2 linked regions of the Homo sapiens genome follow. The protein of the gene in region 1 interacts with the protein of each later gene in a pairwise test. Each region holds a gene or a part of one and is shown on either strand. Other genes may lie near its edges. The genes, in order: SOX18 and GKAP1.

Evidence for each region.
Region 2: the proteins of SOX18 (region 1) and GKAP1 interact in a two-hybrid assay, tested with the Homo sapiens proteins (one large-scale study listed by BioGRID and IntAct).

Annotation. Positions count from the first base shown.
Region 1 is NC_000020.11:64,046,889-64,051,225, reverse strand, and holds SOX18 (transcription factor SOX-18), read left to right. Parts: upstream 1-1,586; 5' UTR 1,587-1,709; coding exon 1,710-2,067; intron 2,068-2,263; coding exon 2,264-3,060; 3' UTR 3,061-3,644; downstream 3,645-4,337.
Region 2 is NC_000009.12:83,811,266-83,815,076, reverse strand, and holds part of GKAP1 (G kinase-anchoring protein 1), read left to right. Parts: intron 1-3,811. UniProt on the Homo sapiens protein: Regulates insulin-dependent IRS1 tyrosine phosphorylation in adipocytes by modulating the availability of IRS1 to IR tyrosine kinase. Its association with IRS1 is required for insulin-induced translocation of SLC2A4 to the cell membrane.

The sequences.
Region 1 (4,337 bases):
GTGAGCCCCTCCATCCCTGTGGCCACAACCCTGCCTGCCTCCCCAGAAAAGCCAGGGGCCGCACCTCCTGGTGCCCCACGGGCCCCCCATTAGCCAGCACTGGCTCAGTGTCTGTGAACGAGGTGCTAGGCCCGTGGGGCAAACTGGAGGGACGGGAGATCTGGAGACCAGACTGGGAGACCCAGCCCCGTATGCTGGGACGATGGGCGTCGAGACAGACTGTGATGTGGGGCTTTGGGGAGGGCTGGACACCGACCGCGACAGCCCTCGGTGGGAGTGCCCCTGTGGGGGTGCTGGCCTCAGGGCAGGAGTGCCCCTGGGGACAGTTCAGGAACAGCCTCTAAGGGGCACTGCAAGGCCCACGTGGGGCCCACCCCATTCATAACACAGGCTGGATGTGGCCTAGCGAGGCTGGCAGGGACAGAGAACCAAGAGCTTCTGGCCACACAGGCTCAGGGTCACAAGACCTGTGGCCTCTACCCATGGGGCTCCCGGCATAGTGTGGCGGGGGGAGCTGGGGAGCCTCCAGGCTATGAGGAGATGTGCCGCGAGGTGGCGAGATTCTGACCCTGCCTGGAGGGCTGCTGGGGACACCCAACCCTTCTCCAGTAGAACCATGCGTGGCAGTGGGAGGGGAGGACCTCCAGAGGGAGACCCTCAGCTCTGGAGCCCAGATCCCCTCCTGATGGAGTAGGAAGGGGACAGTGAAAATTCAGGAAGCTGGACGCTCCTCCGGAACCCGCCCCCGCCCAGGTCAGAGGGTCCAGGGAGGGGCCAGTGGGAAGGACCCAGGTAGGCCCTGCCTCTTGCTGCAGCGGTGGCCTGGGCTGGGCAGGGGAGCCAGCAAGCCACTGAGGGTCCCAGCCCCTTCCCCAAGGGCCCTTGGGGGGCAGGGAGGACGCCACAGCCTCTGCGTCCCTGCTCCCCCTTCTCTTTGTGGGCTCCGTCCAGGGCCTCTGCTCTCTCCCTCCCTGTGTCAGCTTTGCCTTGTGCCAGAGTTGGTTTGGGAGTGAGGACAGAAGACCATCTTGTCCCATAAAGGCACTCAAAGTCCCTGGTGCTGACGGTTACACATGGGTGTAGAGTTTCCAGCATGGGCGCCCCTGGGGACTCAGAGCGCCTCCCCAAAGACGGGGCCTTTTCTGAAGGCGCTGCACTCCAGGAAGGACTTACCGGCTGTTGGGAAGGCAGCCTCCCCAGAACTTGGTGTGAAAAAGGGCCCTCTCCTCCCCATGGAGCCTCCCAGCGGGGGGCGGGGAACGGCAACCAGCGGGACACTGCCGCCCTCCCCCAGTTACTGCCCGGGGGTCCGACTCCGTGGGTGGGTGGCAGCTCGCCTCCGAAAGTCTGGCAGCACCGGCCCTCATCAGCAGCCCTTTCTTTCCCACCCGGGGGGTCTCTCCTTCTGAGAGGTCGCGGGGGAGGTGGGGGGGCTGTGCGCGGGGGAGGCCTCAGCGGAATCCCGCCCGGCCTGAGAAGAAAGGGAGCCCCCGGGGAGGAGGCGGCCCCGACCCGCCCCCGCCCGCCCGCCCCGCCGCCGATTGGCCCTGAGCCGCTATATCTGGGCGCCCGCCCGGCCCGAGGCCACCGCCGTCCCCACCGCCATCCGCCCTCCCGGCCTGGCCTGCCCTTGCGCCCGGCTCCCCAGTGCCCGCCGCCCGCCCGCCGCGCTCCCGCGCTCCGTTCCGCCCAGGCCGCGCCCAGCTGGAATGCAGAGATCGCCGCCCGGCTACGGCGCACAGGACGACCCGCCCGCCCGCCGCGACTGTGCATGGGCCCCGGGACACGGGGCCGCCGCTGACACGCGCGGCCTCGCCGCCGGCCCCGCCGCCCTCGCCGCGCCCGCCGCGCCCGCCTCGCCGCCCAGCCCGCAGCGCAGTCCCCCGCGCAGCCCCGAGCCGGGGCGCTATGGCCTCAGCCCGGCCGGCCGCGGGGAACGCCAGGCGGCAGACGAGTCGCGCATCCGGCGGCCCATGAACGCCTTCATGGTGTGGGCAAAGGACGAGCGCAAGCGGCTGGCTCAGCAGAACCCGGACCTGCACAACGCGGTGCTCAGCAAGATGCTGGGTGAGCGGCGGGAGGGCGGCAGAGAAGGGGGAGAGGGCGGGGGGGGCTCGGGCCGGGGTGGGGCGGGGGGGGCAGGGGTCCCGGGCCGCGGGGTGCGGGGGCTGCGCCAAACCCTCGCGGGGCGTCCCGGGCGCACGGAGGGCTCGGCGCCCACCCGCCCGACGGCGTTCCACTCACTGGCGCCCACGGCCCGCAGGCAAAGCGTGGAAGGAGCTGAACGCGGCGGAGAAGCGGCCCTTCGTGGAGGAAGCCGAACGGCTGCGCGTGCAGCACTTGCGCGACCACCCCAACTACAAGTACCGGCCGCGCCGCAAGAAGCAGGCGCGCAAGGCCCGGCGGCTGGAGCCCGGCCTCCTGCTCCCGGGATTAGCGCCCCCGCAGCCACCGCCCGAGCCTTTCCCCGCGGCGTCTGGCTCGGCTCGCGCCTTCCGCGAGCTGCCCCCGCTGGGCGCCGAGTTCGACGGCCTGGGGCTGCCCACGCCCGAGCGCTCGCCTCTGGACGGCCTGGAGCCCGGCGAGGCTGCCTTCTTCCCACCGCCCGCGGCGCCCGAGGACTGCGCGCTGCGGCCCTTCCGCGCGCCCTACGCGCCCACCGAGTTGTCGCGGGACCCCGGCGGTTGCTACGGGGCTCCCCTGGCGGAGGCGCTCAGGACCGCGCCCCCCGCGGCGCCGCTCGCTGGCCTGTACTACGGCACCCTGGGCACGCCCGGCCCGTACCCCGGCCCGCTGTCGCCGCCGCCCGAGGCCCCGCCGCTGGAGAGCGCCGAGCCGCTGGGGCCCGCCGCCGATCTGTGGGCCGACGTGGACCTCACCGAGTTCGACCAGTACCTCAACTGCAGCCGGACTCGGCCCGACGCCCCCGGGCTCCCGTACCACGTGGCACTGGCCAAACTGGGCCCGCGCGCCATGTCCTGCCCAGAGGAGAGCAGCCTGATCTCCGCGCTGTCGGACGCCAGCAGCGCGGTCTATTACAGCGCGTGCATCTCCGGCTAGGCCGCCGGCGCCGCCCGGGTCCCTGCAGCGCTTCCTCCCGCAGCCCCCGCGACCGATCCGACCGCGTCGCTGCCGCTCTGCTCTCTCATACGCGTGTATGTTTGGTTCCATGTCACAGCCCCCTAGGAGCCAGTGATGCTCGGCCTTGCGCCCGTTCCACCTCCCAGGCCACCCTTCCTGGGCTTCTGGGCCACCTGCCCTCGGGGGGCCCCTGCGAGGGTGCCTGGAGTTCCCACGTGTCCCGGGGCTTTTCCAGGAAGCCCGAGCCCAGGACCTGTTGGCAGAGTTGCCAGGGTTACATTTTTGAAGCACCTGCTCCTTTTCTTGCAGTGTATTTTCTACAACCAGATTGTATTAATATTTTTTACTTTGCCCTTTTAAAAAATATACCTAATACAATATATTTAATTTTTAATTAAACTCTTAAACTTTTCTTCCAAGAAGTTTCAGTGATCAGAAGCGTCACTGTGGCAAAGACTTTTGCAATGTGAGGAATACAGATGTTTGCTTTCTATAAAGGAGGAGCCTGGAGCTGGGTCCCCGGACGGAGAGGCCACAATAAATCCTCGGGCCTTTCCTCTGCACACTGACATCTGTGGTGTTTGCAGGGAGGGAAAAGCAGTTCCCCAAATAGCCCTGGACGCCCCTTCCCTCCGAATCGCCCCCAGGGAGCCTGACTCCTAGCTTGAACCTCATAGCACTCCTTCATCCTTCCGTGACACATCCCAGAGAGCGTGGGTAGCAGGCATGGGTCCACACTCCCCCCCAGCCCTCCACTCCCCTCCTGTCCCACCCCCAGGTTAACTCAAGCCTATCGGAGGTCAGACTATACCAGCAATCCTGTCACACCCCCGCTAGGGTTTCATCGCCCTTGCCTCCACCTTAAAACTTCCATGCCCAAGGACTGCCCAGTACGGCCCCCTTTCCTGAGGGAGGCTGGCAGGTTGGCAGCCCACATGCAGACACAGACTCCAGGGTCTCCGTCAGCTGTTCTAACTCACCCCAGGGAGGACAGCACCATGCTACACCCACAGCGCTCCCCCCACCCGGGTGACCTGTCCAGCTCTGCCCAGAGACAGGTCCGATGGCCAAGGCAGGAGAGCACAGGCTTCACATCCCAAGACCCCCCAACTCTGGAGTCGTATCTCACTAGCCCCCAGGAGGACTGGACACCCTCTTTCTTTTTCTTTCTCTCTCTTTTTTTTTTTTGAGACGGAGTCTCGCTGTGTCACCCAGGCTGGAGTGCAGTGGAGCAATCTCGGTTCACAGCAAGCTCC
Region 2 (3,811 bases), on another chromosome or scaffold:
CCTCAGCCTCCCGAGTAGCTGGGACTACAGGCGTGCGCCACCATGCCCAGCTAGTTTTTGTATTTTTAGTAGAGATGGGGTTTCACTACGTTGGCCAGGATGGTCTCGATCTCTTGACCTTGTGATCCACCCGCCTTGGCCTCCCAAAGTGCTGGGATTACAGGCGTGAGCCACCATGCCCGGCTGGCTTAAATCAACACTTTAAAACCAGATATGCTTCCTAGACAAAATTGGTTGTGGCAATTAGTTTGTTAGAATAGTACTTACCGTAATGAAACAACTTTGAACTGCTAATAATTGCTCATGCACATCTGCGTTATGGGAATTGAGGATTGTCTATTGTGCACTTCACATATTTCTTTTTCTACTTGTAGAGCACATTTTTCACTGCATAGACAGCTGTGTACTTGAAGAATGTAAACATGAAGAAAACACTAAGTTCAATAAATGTGTCTTCTATGTGCCAGATCCTGTGGTATTTGTAAGGGATAGAAACTCTTGTCTTTCAGGATCTTGAAATCAGGATCATAGGGGCTAGGCACAACAATAAAGAGAATTTTTTTGGAGTCCATTCAATAATAGTAAGTTTAAAGTATGGAAATATTACAGAGGAGGGAATGTTTAACTTCAGGAACAGGTCAGAGAACGCTTCATAGATATGCTAGCACCTGAGCAGGATTTTGAGGAATAAATGGAAGTTTTCAGTGGAAGAGATAGATGGCATTGTAGACAAAAGAGAACAGCATAGTTAAAGATATGAACAAGTAAACTAATTGTGTGTTCAAGAAATTTCAAGTTGTTTTTTCTTGGAGTACATGCAAAATCTGAAGAAAGAGGGTTGCTAGAGAAAGCCCTAACGCATGCTATTACATTTAATAAGTCAAATAATTGGCTTTTTGGGTATGAAGTATATGTAAAATAAAGACTTTGTTATATTTTTGACATTGCTGCCATCTTTTTTTTTTCTTTTTCTTCTTTGACAAAGGGTCTCAGGCTGTAACCCAAGGTGTAGTGCAGTGGCACAATCACTGCTCACTACAGCCTCGACCCCCAGGCTCAGGTGATCCTACCACCTTAGCCTCCCAAGTAGCTGGGACCACAGTCATGCACCACTATGCCTGCTAACTGTTGTACATTTTGTAGAGAAGGGGTTTTGCCATGTTTCCCTAGCTGATCTTGAACTCCTGGGCTCAAGCAATCTGCCCACCTCAGCCCTTCCAAAGTACCAGGATTACAGGTGTGAACCACCATGTGTGGCCTGCTGCCATCTTAAGTATAAATTAATAGTTTGTACTAGTGGTAGTCATTACATTATGGAAGATAGTAGAAGATATATTTATTTATGGTGAACTGCCTGCATATTGAGAATGTGTGTTTATTTCACATTTTGCCCTGAAACATTTCTGTTTTTAAAATTATCGTGTGAATTTATTTTGTCTTCCTTCAACTATACATTATCCTTGAAATTAGTTTTATCATTTATTTTATGAGATACGGTTTTGCTATGTTGCCTGGGCTGGTCCCAAACTCCTGGACTTAAGTGATCTCCTGCTTCAGTCTCCCAAGTTGCTGAAATTACAGGTGTGCACCACTGAGCCCAGATATCCTTGAAATTATTTTTAAAAGGAACTCAAAGGGAGGAGGGGAAAAATATAAATAAAATAATCATTAGATTTCTGCACCAAAAACCTGATTTGTGTAGTAGTTTAATAATATGTAAATGTTTAATATACAGTATTAGCCACCATATTCATAGACTAATTTAAGTAACTTAATTGGCAGTCCATTGTATTTTCATTTGCATTGTATGGCTTAATTATATTATGTGTATATAAATGTCTAAGCATAGAAGCATCTAAATTTTAAAGACCAAGTGTATTTGAAGGAGAAAAAGTATAGAGAGGGAGGGAGAAGAGCTGTGTTTGAATCTATTTATCCTAACATCTCTTAGATGTGACTGTATGTGGAGATGCAGAAGTTTAGGACACAAGACTGAAGGAATACTAACCCTAGCCATGACCTGAAATATAGTATCTTTTAAAAGCCTAATGTTTTCCTAGTCTCCCTATTTGTTTCTTCTTATCAAGATTAAAAAAAAAGTTACAGAGGAATTCCTGGATTGCATAACATGACTATCTTTTTGAAAATTCTGAAAAATTAGTTAACGAGGGTAGTGTTCTCTTAAAAGTATGCAACATATTAGTCTTCGATAGTTGCTCTCTGTCGTTTGACTTGTCTGTCACTGATGTGAATGGCCAAAGGCGTCTCATTGTCAATTCTGACCTGTAGTTGCCCTTTCTAAATTTTGACACAGGGCAAAAAAATCAATATTGTATTGATTACATTATGCTTAACTTTTTCAACTTGAGTATAGATAACCATTTTTTCTTTTTGAGGTTGTTTTTCTTTTTTTTTTTTAGAACTAATATCATTGTAGAGCCGGGCATGGTGGCTCATTCCTGTAATCCCAGCACTTTGGGAGGCTGAGGTAGGAGGATTGCTTGAGCCTAGGGGTTCAAGACCAGCCTGGGCAACATGGCAAAACCCTGTCTCTGCAAAAAATTAGCCAGGCATGGTGTCACGTGCCTGTAGTCCCAGCTACTCTGGAGGCCGAGGTGGGAGAATCACCTGAGACCAGGAAGTTGAGGCTGCAGTGAGCCGTGATCACACCACTGCTCCAGCCTTGGTGTGTGAGTAAGACCCTGTCTAAAAAAAAATATATATATATATACGTGTATATATATACGTGTGTATATATACATATATATGTATACGTATATATATACGTATATATGTGTATATATATGTGTATATATACGTATACATATATACGTATATATGTATACATGTGTGTGTGTATGTATGTATGTGTATATATATGTGTATATATATATTTATATAGTCATTGTAGAATATTTGGGGAAATAGTAAAAACCATAGAAAGGAAAATAAGCATAGTGAGTAATCCCATGCATTTCTTTCTTCATTTTGGTATGTGTATGAATAATAGACATATTTACAAATTGGGGATTATTTTCATGTTAAGTTTTATTCCCTTCTTTCATTTAAAATTACATTTCCTTCTCTTCTACTTCTGAAGTACTGGTCGTTGTACCTTTTGACATAGTATGTAGATTTCTGTCAAGGCTGTTGCAGTAGATGATGTGTTGATATGTTGGCTATTTTTTTTTTTAAGTATAGCATAGCACAGATGATTGAACTCTTCCAGTTGTTTCATCTCCTATCCCCTTAGCTGCAGATTAAGTAGTGCTATTTTTTGTCTTTAATATTTACTGTTATGTAAAGTCTAATATAATGGGAAGTGGCTGCCACTGTCTTACTCTTTTTGCACTTTACCCTGATCAAACAAGAGGTCATTAAAGGGGCATTTCCCCCTTTCCATTTTAGCTTTTCAGAAGTAACCTTCTGACAGAAGTACCCTTTCAGACATGTTAACACATAGGTTGCTGATGTGACATAGCACAGGTAGCTGCTTTACCAGAAAAATAATTTTGTCTTTTGAGTGTTTGTCATTGGTTCTTTTCTTGATTAACAGTATTTGTCATAATACTTTCTGTTTGCTTTGTGTTTGTTTTGTTACTTCTTTTCATTCATTCAAGAAACGTTTAATATCTATTGTATGCCCACTATTTAAGATATAGTCTCAACTGTGACTCTTGGGTTTCTGGTAGATAGGTATTTTCCTTCCGTAGTATGTTATGTGTAATCTTTAGGTCTTTGACTCTTTTCAGTGGCTGACCACTCACCTACTACTCAATGCCTAAAAACTTTTTTATTTCAAAGATTAAAG